3 linked regions of the Homo sapiens genome follow. The protein of the gene in region 3 purifies or fractionates together with the protein of the main gene of each other region. This does not show direct contact. Each region holds a gene or a part of one and is shown on either strand. Other genes may lie near its edges.

What was found.
Region 1: the proteins of TTC39B (region 3) and FDXR purify together in Homo sapiens (affinity purification with mass spectrometry; 3 studies listed by BioGRID and IntAct, with this or other methods). This does not show direct contact.
Region 2: the proteins of TTC39B (region 3) and HSPD1 purify together in Homo sapiens (affinity purification with mass spectrometry; 3 studies listed by BioGRID and IntAct, with this or other methods). This does not show direct contact.

Annotation. Positions count from the first base shown.
Region 1 is NC_000017.11:74,871,227-74,874,975, forward strand, and holds the start of FDXR (NADPH:adrenodoxin oxidoreductase, mitochondrial isoform 1 precursor), read right to left. Parts: upstream 1,769-3,749; 5' UTR 1,719-1,768; coding exon 1,640-1,718; exon of another isoform or gene 1,543-1,639; intron 1,091-1,542; coding exon of another isoform or gene 972-1,090; intron 908-971; coding exon 810-907; intron 1-809. UniProt on the Homo sapiens protein: Serves as the first electron transfer protein in all the mitochondrial P450 systems including cholesterol side chain cleavage in all steroidogenic tissues, steroid 11-beta hydroxylation in the adrenal cortex, 25-OH-vitamin D3-24 hydroxylation in the kidney, and sterol C-27 hydroxylation in the liver.
Region 2 is NC_000002.12:197,493,189-197,496,937, forward strand, and holds part of HSPD1 (60 kDa heat shock protein, mitochondrial), read right to left. Parts: intron 2,189-3,749; coding exon 2,106-2,188; intron 1,565-2,105; coding exon 1,469-1,564; intron 1,063-1,468; coding exon 969-1,062; intron 305-968; coding exon 136-304; intron 1-135. UniProt on the Homo sapiens protein: Chaperonin implicated in mitochondrial protein import and macromolecular assembly. Together with Hsp10, facilitates the correct folding of imported proteins.
Region 3 is NC_000009.12:15,305,644-15,309,392, forward strand, and holds the start of TTC39B (tetratricopeptide repeat protein 39B), read right to left. Parts: upstream 1,574-3,749; 5' UTR 1,483-1,573; coding exon 1,441-1,482; intron 1-1,440. UniProt on the Homo sapiens protein: Regulates high density lipoprotein (HDL) cholesterol metabolism by promoting the ubiquitination and degradation of the oxysterols receptors LXR (NR1H2 and NR1H3).

The sequences.
Region 1 (3,749 bases), on a different chromosome or scaffold from region 3:
AACTCATCCCAGTTTCCCAAGAACTTCCAGCTTAGCGCTGAAGCCCCTTGTCCTGGGCAGTCCAGGCCAGTTGGTCACCCTACATTTCAAGCATCTGTGTGTGTGTGTATAATTAAGATATTCATCCTTTCTCTTGTCTCTCCACGGACACTCCAAGCCTCTCCAAAGCTAGGCAACTGTCTCACGTCTCAGTTAACCTGGGTATCCCCTCTCTACTCTGTCCCAAAGTCTGATGTGGAGTCTCAAGTAGAACCTGTAGCCTTGGCTTGGGGCCCTTCCTGCCGAGGCAGACACTGAAAGCCTTGAGATCCTGGCCTTCACAGGGGAAGGGGGAGGGGCAGAGGGCAGGCTGAAAGAACAGAATGGCACGGAGGACTGGAGCTATGGGTGAGGAGGGCATGGCAAGGCAGGTAAAGTTACAGAAAGCGGAGGAGGTGGGTAGCCTCGAGATGTAGGATGTTTGGGATAGAGTGAAGATAGACGAGAGAGGAGGGAAGATGAAGGAGGACAAAGTCATTTTGCAGGTCTACATAAGCCCCCTGGAGTGCTTGGCCAGGGAGGCAAAGCTGACCACCTGCCACTGACCACTCACCACCAATGTGCGTTTTACACCCCTGTCACACTGAGGACGGGAGGGGAGGGGAGCCTCAGGTGTAGGTGAGGAAGCAAGTGGGAAGTGTCCAGGCCAGATGGCTGGGAGCCCCTTCCCCATAAGGCAACCAGGAGTGCTCTTAAAACCCAAAGCGGGTGAGGCTTGCCCTTAGGACTGGAGCAGCAGGTGAATGATGGACTATGAGTAAGTGGCTTACCTTTAGCAGGTGTTGGGCCGTGTAGAAGCCAGCTGGGCCACTGCCCACCACACAGATCTGGGGGGTCTTCTCCTGTGTGGAGAAATGGTGGCAGAAGCCTGGGGCCAGGCAGAGGAGAGGGAAAAGGTCAAAATTAACTTCTCTCCCCAGTCCCAAACCAACCTGAATATCCAACAGAAGCTGGAACTTCCCAAGCTTCACCCTCACCTGCATCCTCCTTCTCTTGTTCCTCAAGGCTTTGGCATTTGCAGGGTCTCTTACTTCATCTGAACCCCCAAAGGCTGTGGGTTCATCCAGAGCCCACATCTCACCCATGAACCTACTACACCACTGCCAATGGCCTGCCCAACAACACTTCATTCCCTATCCAATCGGCTAGAATCCCACATCCTTCCAACGGCCTCCATATCATCCCAATCTCGCCCCCGTGGGTCTCCCCACGGTGTCCCTCCTCTAACCCCTCTCTCTCTCCACAAAACGCTATATTGCCCATATAGACCCGTCTTATTCCTACAGATCCCTGTTTCGACTCAGACTTTCCTCTCGCCCCACAGACCTCCGTATCATCCTCCATTCACCCCGTCTCACACCTGTAGATCTCAAAGTCTCTCCTTTTCACCTTTGTTGACCTCCGTCTCTAACCCTAGAAGCCTCACATCTCACGCACAGATCTCCGCCCACCCCCGTACACCACCGGGATCTCGCCAGCAGGAAGACACCCCTTCAGTCTCACCCTTCTCCAGCCCTGCCCCAGCTCTGCTCCGACCCCTACTCAGCGCTCGCAGGCCTCCCCGCGCTCCCATCCAGCCCCAAAGGCGCCCTGCTCCTACTCGGGGTGCTCCCGGCGGGAGGCAGCCGGGTCCGAGGCCACGCCGACCAGCCCCACCAGCGCCAGCAGCGCGAAGCCATGGCTGGGAGCAGCAACCTGCAAGTGGATCTGTTCCTAGCTACTGCTCCGCAGGGCAAGCCCGCTCCTGCCCGGGCCCGCCCACAAGCGAGGCCCCGCCCCAAACCCCGCCCCCTGCGCTCCGGGAAAGCGGAGCCTTGCGGCTCCACCCCGACTCCCGAGAGAATCCCGCCCCCAAAAGAGAGACCCGCCCTTAACTACGCCCCACCGTCGAAGCCCCGCCCCTCGGAGCATCCGGGGTATACGCGATTTAATACATTTCTCCCCAGGCCTCACCTTCCCTCCAAATCCCGGAAGCCTAGGGTTGGAAGAGAGCGAATCCCCATCGCTGTTTCAGTCCCTCCCCAAGGAAACAGCCACTAAGAAAGGAGCTTATTTTACTTAGCCGCGCCCCTCTCGGGAGGCTCTCGTCGCTCACTGATGACGCAGACGCCCTTGCCATTTGATTGCGAATCCTCCCACGTGACTTCGTCCTAGCCAATCACGAGTCCGGCTCCAAGCGAGCCTTCCCGCCGTTGGGAAATAACCAGAGTGCGGAAGTCTGGGGCGAGGGAGCTCCTTCCCGGAGCCCAGCAGCCTCCTTCTTCGACCCCGGGTGTTGTGCCGATGTAACCCCTCAAATCCCCGTCTTTGCCGGGCCAGGGAGAATATTAAACCCTGGAAAGCTCGTCCCACCTCACCTCCTTTCCCATTACATAGGTGAAGAAAAGCGGGGCGGGGCAGTGGCTTACGTATGGTACTAAGGACAGAGCGTCCGACCCCCGTGCAGCCGAGCCGGGACCAGAGTTGAGGTACTCCCCTCGGGTTCAGAATTTAAGGGGGCTCCAAAACACTCAGTAATCAAGATAAATATAATACTGCAACGTTTTAAAAGGTCAAAAGTAATGCAAAAAGTCTATGATCAAAATGTTTTTAAAAATAAGGACAGGATCCGTAGTCACAGCTGACCCAATAAGCCTAACCCCTCTTCCTTTTCCCCATGGGCCCTCTTGTCAAATATTACTTCCTTGGAGAAGCCTTTTCTCTGACCCGTCCCCTCCCAAGTTCCAAGGAGTTAAAGGCCTCTCATTCCACAGCATCTGACCTTATCCCATCATGACTTACTACACTGGTTGTCGTTTTTAATGAGATTTTAAATTCAATAATAACATACAGAAAAGTGCACAAATCATGAGTGTACAACTTGACAATATATCACAAGGTGTAACCATATAACCACCACCCAGATCAAGAAATAAAACATGGCCAGTATCCCAGGAGTCCTCTGTGCCCTTACTGGTCACTTCCCCTCCCTCCCACTGGTAAGTAAATGCTGTCTGCTTTCTAATAGGTCACTGTGTTTTATGCCTGTCCCACTAGACCAGGAGTAGGCAAACTATAGCTTGCAGGCCAAATACTGTCCACCAGCATGTTTTGGATGACCAACAAGAATGGCTTTTACTGTTTTTGTTTTTTTGGAGGTTTTGGGGTTTTTGTTTTTGGTTTTGATTTTGTTTTTTGAGACAGGGTCCTGCTCTGTCACCCAGGCTGGAGTGCAGTGGTGCTCACTGCAACCTCTGCTTCCTGGCTTGGCTCAAGCGAGCCTCAGGCCTCAGCCTCCGGAGTAGCTGGGACCACAGGTGCCTGCCACCACGCCTGGTTCATTTTTGCATTTTTTGTGGAGATGGGGTTTTGCCATGTCACCCAGGCTGGTCTCGAACTCCTGAACTCAAAGCGATCCTCCCACCTCGGCCTTCCAAAGTGCCAGGATTACAGGAGTGAGCCACCACACCCAGCTTGTTTTTATATTTTTAATGGTAAAAAACAACATTTTGTGACACGTAAAAATTACATGAAATTCAGACTTCAGTTTGAATAAAACTTTATTGGAAGACATCCATGCTTACTTCTTTACATATTGTCTATGGCTATATTTGTGCTTTGATGGCACAATTGAGTAGTTGTAACAGAGATCATATGGTTCGCAAAGCCCCAGATATTTACTATCTGGTCCTTTACAGAGTTTGACCACCCCTGCACTACATTATAAGCTC
Region 2 (3,749 bases), on a different chromosome or scaffold from region 3:
ACACAATTACAATTCTAGATACAAACCCAACTGGATCAAATGTGGAGGTACACATGATGGAAACTGCAAACAGCAATACAAATAATTCTGTCTTTCACCGAGAAATATAAATCAACAAATACCACTGCTTATTACCTATTCAAGACGAGTGTACTTAGAGCTTCTCCATCAACATCTTCAGCGATTATGACCAAAGGCTTACGGTGAGCATTGGCAATTTCAAGAGCAGGTACAATGGACTGGATACTAGAAATTTTCTTTTCACTCAACAGAACATAGGCATCCTGGAATTCACATTTCTGACCTGTAAAAATAATGAAGATTTCAAAAATATACAAAAAATGACTGCAATACATTTAAATGAAAAGCGAAACCAAGGTTCCAATACACTTTAAAATTCACCAGTGAGTTGGTTTTCCTCCTTCATTTCTCATATGCATTAACTTTTGGAATATATACATTTATTTTTTAGAGGATGACACCAACTAATACCTATAGTTTGACACATATTAGAAAGTATATTTTAAAAACTTCAGGAGGCCAAAGCAGGCAGATGACTTGAGGCCAGGAATTCAAAACCAGCCTGGCCAACATGGCTAAACCTTGTCTCTATTAAAAAATTCAAAAATTGGCCAGGCACAGAGCCTCATACCTATAATCCCAGCACTTTGGGAGGCCAAGGTGGGTGGATCACCTGAGGTCAGGAGTTAAGAGACCAGCCTGGCCAACATGGTGAAACCCCATCTCTACTAAAAATACAAAAATCAGCCTGGCATGGTGGCGTGTGACTGTAATCCCAGCTACTTGGGAGACTGAGGCAAGAGAATCACTTGAACCCGGAAGGCGGAGGTTGCAGTGAGCAACGCGCCACCACATCATGCCACTGCACTCCAGCCGGGGCAACAGAGAATGAGACTCTGTCTAAAATAATAAAAATAATAATAATTCAGTTATTGATTTGTTCTTACCTTTTGATGTATTAATAAAGTATGGAGAAATATAGCCTCGATCAAACTTCATGCCTTCAATAATTTCTAATTCATCATTCAGTGTTTTTCCATCCTATGAAAAGTCAAAGAATTAGGTATATGGATTTCATTGAACACAAAACATGGAATTACAGGCCAGATTAATAAAAACAGACCCCTCTGGCCATAAGAGATGCAGGGTAGAGTATGAAACAGCCCAGGACATCCAATTACACTTCTGCAAAAAATCCCAAAAGTGCTTATTTGAATAATCATTTAAGTTAGGATGGATTCATTTCATGCAGCAAAGGCTAATTCACATAAAACACAGTAAGTACTTTATTCTATACATGTGCTGAGACTACATATGAAGGAATAAAAAAAGCAGTTTTTAAAACAGAATTTTTCTGTTTGAAAAATTCAGTTTTGATCATCAGATAACTCAAACTTTTGATCATAAGATAACTCAAAATTATCTTTAAAAATACAAACACACTTGCCTTTACTGTGATGACACCCTTTCTTCCAACTTTTTTCATTGCATCAGAGATGATATTGCCAATTTCTTTGTCTCCGTTTGCAGAAATCGTAGCAACCTGAAATAATCCAGTTACTCTTCGAAATTAAAAGGTAAGCCTAGTGTCCTCAGTCAGTTCCCTTACCTTTTCCTAGTAACTTCCAAATTGATACTTCCATCCAGGGGAGAGAAGGGGAATTTACGTTATGGTAGTTTTCATGAAGTACTGGTTCTTTGCTCTTTTCCGATTCATTATTTGACTACATTGTTTTGAAGAATATGATACATAAAACTATTCTTGTAACAAAAAGTTTAAAAATGCTGACTTCATTACAAACTGACAAAACTTATGCACCTTTGACAATGGCTAAGAACATTTTCACAATCATATGAATCCATTTTACAGCCATGTAGAACTAAAATGACAACCACATGTAGAACTAAATGACAACCATTATGGTCATAATTCTTTTCAAAGGTTTTAGCAGTAAGAAACAATGATTCTAATATTGATGATTGGGTAGTATTGTTATTCTGACATTGGTGTGATCAAGGGAAAAAAAAAATCACACATGCCATTAAATTTTTTTTAAAAAACGTGTAACATGTTAAGTCCTTACCTGTGCAATTTCTTCAGGGGTGGTCACAGGTTTAGACTGCTTTTTAAGTTCAGCAATTACAGCATCAACAGCTAACATCACACCTAGTTCAACGATATATGTCATTACAATGTTTATTTCTCTCATGGCTTCTATGTCAAGTAGAAATCTTGAGATTTGTGACAAATATTTTAATGCCTTAACTTAAAAAAAAAAATTTTTTTTTTTTTTGAGACAGGGTCTTGTTCTGCTGCCCAGGCTAGAGTGCAGTAGCACAGATCATGGCTCACTGCAGCCCTGACATCCTGGGCTCAAGGGAGTAGCTGAGACCACAGGCTCAAGCCACCATGCTCAGCTTCTTTTATTTTTGTAGACAAGGTCTCACTATGTTGCCCAAGGTGGTCTTGAACTCCTGGGCTCAAGCAATCCTCCCACCTCAGCTTCCCATGTAGCTGGGACTACAGGCATGTACCTATGCTTGGTCTTTAGTGCCTTAATATTAAATTTACACACAGCTTCTGAGACAGTGCTTCTTAATAACACAGAGTTGCGTGGCATGTACTTAAACAGTAACTTTAGGTTCACACAGTAAATAAAATCTCACAATGCCAAAATTTTGAAAATAGGACTAAAACAAGGTAGATGTGTGTAGTTTCAAAAGTCTCACCACTGAACTCATCCTATGCAAATTCCTAACCCAATCATGCTGTTTCCAATAGGGTCCACGACACTTCTCATGTCCATTAGATGATGCAAAAAAGGACCAAAATGGCTAACACTCCCTTATTTTCAACAAGAAGTACAGTTCTTAAATGATAGGAATCTGTTGTGACTATGCCTCTGCAGGTGTCAATTATCTGAAATCCCCTCAATTTAGTACGTATTATGAACTAACAAAATATTTTTGTTTTACATCAGTCTTAATAGTCCCATTTTGCTCAATTGGGAATAGTGCTAGCTCTCTTGTTTGAGAACTGTTACTTCAAAAAAAATCCAATGCAAGGTGCTGGTAAGTCCTCTTCATAACCTTAATTAATACTTGTTAGTGATTTACAGTAAAACTGCTTTTAGTGAAGTATATTCACTTGGCCCATAAACACTGAAATAGATGAGGTAATGATACATTAGTAATGTAGTAATAAATTAGTATGCCAATTCTGACAAAAAATTACCAATAGCTCCCCCCACCTTCACTTACAAGAGGGTTCCTGGTTTGAACCCTAACATACCCTAGATATACATAGCAATTCTGCTGATAGGAAAACCAAGTCTTAGCACACAGCTAATAAATGACAAACATGGGACTAGAATTTAAGTCTATACTGCCATGAACCTCATGAGGAGGAGCAAATTGTTAATTAAGTTGCACTCTAGTTACAAGCACTAACAAAACACAAACCAATAACATGGTGTGTGCTATTAAGAAAAAATAAACTGAGGAAAACATTACTTTCTGACATTCTGAATGATCCAGTGTATTTAGTCTTACTTTCTACAAAACTAAACTAAAAATTAGCCAGGAATGGTGGTGAGTGCCTGTAGTAGTCCCAGCTACTTGGAGGCTGAGGCAGGAGGATTGCTTGAGCCCAGGAGTTCCAGTGCAGTCCAGCCTGGGCTACAGAGCAAGACCCTGTCTCTAAAAACAAAAGAAACCAACTAAGTAAA
Region 3 (3,749 bases):
CAGAGTTTCACCCACAGAAACCTAACTTCCCTCCTCATCGGCTAATGCATCTCAACCGTTCATCTAGTAGGCAGTGAGCATAGCTGGGGTGACCATTTGTCAAAGTATCTCCGAAACAGTCCCAGTTTACACCTATTATCCCAGTGTTAATTAATAATAGCACCGCCTCAACAATGCCCTAATCTAGAGAATTACATAGTTCTAAGCACAGCAAATCTCCTACAAACAGATCGGGATTCAAATATTTCATTCTACAGTCTTGGGATCCTCAATGCAAGGGACAGGCTGTAAGCAAGGGTCTGGACAGCCCGGCTTGCCCTCTTGTCTCTCTGTCATGCAGAGGAGCTGTAGTTCAGTTTTTGTTTTTTGTTTATTTTACGGAGCACATTTAAAGTATAGTCTTCCTTGTCAGGAGATTCCTGGCACTAAAGAGATGGACGGGAAACTTAACCGCCTCCTCCAGATCGTCCACTATTGCATCATTTGAAACCAAAGCCTTCTAAAGGCAGCGACTCGCACAATTCAAGTCAGGTAAGATGGCAGGAACAGCAGCTGTGGGTGCTGGCTGCTGCTGGAGCCTCGGTCTCAACTTCAAGAGCAGGGAGAGCGCTGTCTCTGGAGTTGCCAGGTGCTGAAATGAATAGTCAATAAATCAACAGGTCCGGCGCGCTAGCCCCTGGGTGCTCAGGCCCGGGCGCGCCACGACTGAAGGAGTGGCTAATTACTCAAACACAGTTGAAACCAAAGGAGGCCGGAGTCGGTTCTCAAAGTGGTTTCCCTCCGGCCACCACCGACTCTGAGGACCTGCTAGGGGAAGTGTCCCGGCCCCGTGGAGGGAGAGGGAAGCACCACAGCCTGGGCTGCGGCTCTAGCCCTCCAGCCCCAGCCCCTGGCAGCCCTGCCCTGCTGTCGCGGCAGGTACCCCTCTACTCATTGTTCCTCAGGCTGCCCCCTCTTTTCATCAATCGTAAGCCTTTCGGTTCTGCCACCAGGAAACTTCCATAGAAGGTGAGATTCCCAGGTCGAGGGATGATTCCACGAACACCCAGAGAGCCAGTGCCAGGACTTCAGGGTCAGACTTCGTAAAGCCCAGGCGTCGCTGGGCCGGCCCGGAACAGCTCAGAGCTGCGGGTCCTATGGTCCCGCGCCCTCACGCCCATCCAAGTGCTGGCAGGACGTGGGTCCTCCATCCCCACGACTCGCGGGGCCGGCGCTCCGAACCTCGGCACTGCGTCCGCTCCGCGCGCCGCAGGGACCCTCCTAGCTCCAGCGGGGACAGACCTACCAAGGCCGGGCGCCCCCACCCGGCGCCCGCCAGCCCACCCCAGAGAGGGGACCAAGGGGGCGGGGCCTCGGCCGTCCTAGCCGGGCTCACTCTTCTCTCCCGGACTCCTGTCCAGGGCTTCAGGGGCCGGGCCCGCAATCCCCATCGGATCGTACCTCGTCCGCTTCCAGCTCCGCTCGGCTGCCTAAGAGCGCCATATTCCTCCTCTGGCTGCTGCCACCCAAAAACCAAGCAGGGAACTCAGAGCCGACTCCTGCTCTCGGCTCTGGGCTCAGCCCAGCGCAAAGGAGGGCAAAAGGGGACGGCCCGGCGCTCCCTCCGGGTCTCGGGCGGGGCCTGAGTGCAGCTACTCGATTTCCCCGCCCCCGGAGCCGGCAGGCCAGCACAGCATCCATTTCCTCCCCGGACGCCGCGCCGCTGGCCGGGCCACTTGCCCGGCCCCCAGCGGGCGGCAGCCCCGCCCAAGTGGGTGGAGTCACCTCCCAGATAAAGTTTCCCGGTCTGGCACGCCCTCTGGGAGGGTTTCCTAAGCTTTCCTGCCGCCTGTTCTCTGCGGTGGCTGGGCACACCTGGAAAGAAGCTAGAGAGCGCGGGCATGACGAAGCCAAGGTCAAAGCAGCGCCCCACCTGGGGTCCGTGGAAGCATCCACCTGGTCTTTGGTCCGGTGCCAGTCCTTTTCCCTCGCCAGGTGGCCACCGCATCTCGCAGATGGTGTGGCCTGAGGGCAGCCTTGGGTCACGGTCACTGGTCCCCGAGAGGCCTCTGACACACCACCCACCTGGACTGTAGGTGGAAGGACTCTGCTTGCTTCTGTGTTCAAAAAATAGAAAAAAACGCGGGACAGAGATTTATACATATTGGAACTCCTCTACTTCCCCCTACCCGGACAGTGTATTCTCCCCATAGCATCCTGTATTTTGTAACTCCAAACATAGGTGTATAATTCGTGCTTGAACTATAAACTCCATGGGGGTAGGATGCTATCTGTCCTCTTCAAGACTGTATCCCCAACACCCAGAACAGTGTCTTGCACATCGTAGGTGCTCAACAGATATTTGTTGGCTGAGTTTAGAAACTGAACCTTGCTTCTGACATGTAAAATAACTGGAAAATTAAAAGCTAGATCTTTAAGAGTTTGGGGGAGAGAGGTCAGATTTACTTTACATACAGAAAAATGCACCAAGTTAAATGTGTGATTCAGTGACAAGTGTTTACAAAGCATCCCAGTCATAATATAGAACATCCTGAAAAGTTTTCTGTGACCCTTTGCTGTCAATTTCCTACCTCCGCTCCCTAGCCTCTGTCAATCACTGATCTGCTATCAACATCGATTTGCCTTCTCTAGAATTTCATATAAATTTAATTAGAGCATGTGGTCTTCCATGTCTGGCTCATGAAAGGCTATTTAATAGTCATCCAGTGATAACTGTAAAAACAGCTAATAGTTCTTGAGTCCTTACTATGTGCCAGGACTCTACTGAACCTCTTGCATATAGTATTTCATTTATTCTTCATAACCCCATAAAGTAGGGTGCTGTTCTCTTTCAGATGAGTAAACTGAGGCTCAGAGAGTTCAAGTAATATGCCTGAGGCCAGACAGCAGTTAAGTAAGTAGGGATGCCAGCATCTGAACCCCAGCAGTCTAACTCTAGGGCCTAGCTGATAACCATTGCTTTGTACTGTACTGGCTCTAGCCACCCTCCCTCTCTTTCTTTCTGTGTCAGTAGAGCAGTTGTCTGTGCAAGTCCATTACATACATTTTCAGTGAGTCACTTTGCATCCTTAATACTTGCTGTACAATTTTAATGGCTTGGCATGTACTTTTGTACTAGAATAATAAAATGGTTTCTACAGCAGAAACATTGAAAAAATGGGTTAGATCGTGTGATGGTTGCTCAACTCTCTGAATTGTCTAAAAATCCTTGAATTGTGTACTTACAATAGGTGGAACTTATGATTATGTAAATTATATCTTAGTAAAGCTGTTTTAAAAAAACTAGCTGACACAGGCTAGGTGTGGTGGCTCACGCCTGTATGGGATTACAGCACTGGGAGACTGAGGAAGGAGGCTAACTTGAGTTTAGGAGTTCGAGACTAGCCTGAGCAACATAGCAAGACCCAATTTCTAAATAATAATACTTTTTTTTTTTGAGAGACAGTTTCACTCTCATCTCCCAGGCTGGAGTGCAATGGCTCGATCTTGGCTCACTGCAACCTCCGCCTCCTGGGTTCCCACTAATCTGTAAATTGCTTAGAAGGAGGCACTATCTTATTCATCAGTGCAGGTACTCAATAAAAAAGCTCCAGGTGCAGTGGCTCATGCCTGTAATCCCAACACTTTGGGAGACCGAGGCGAGCGGATCACGAGGTCAGAAGTTCGAGACCAGCCTTACCAACATGGTGAAACCCAGTCTCTACTAAAAATACAAAAAGCAGCTGGGCATGGTGGTATGCGCCTGTAAT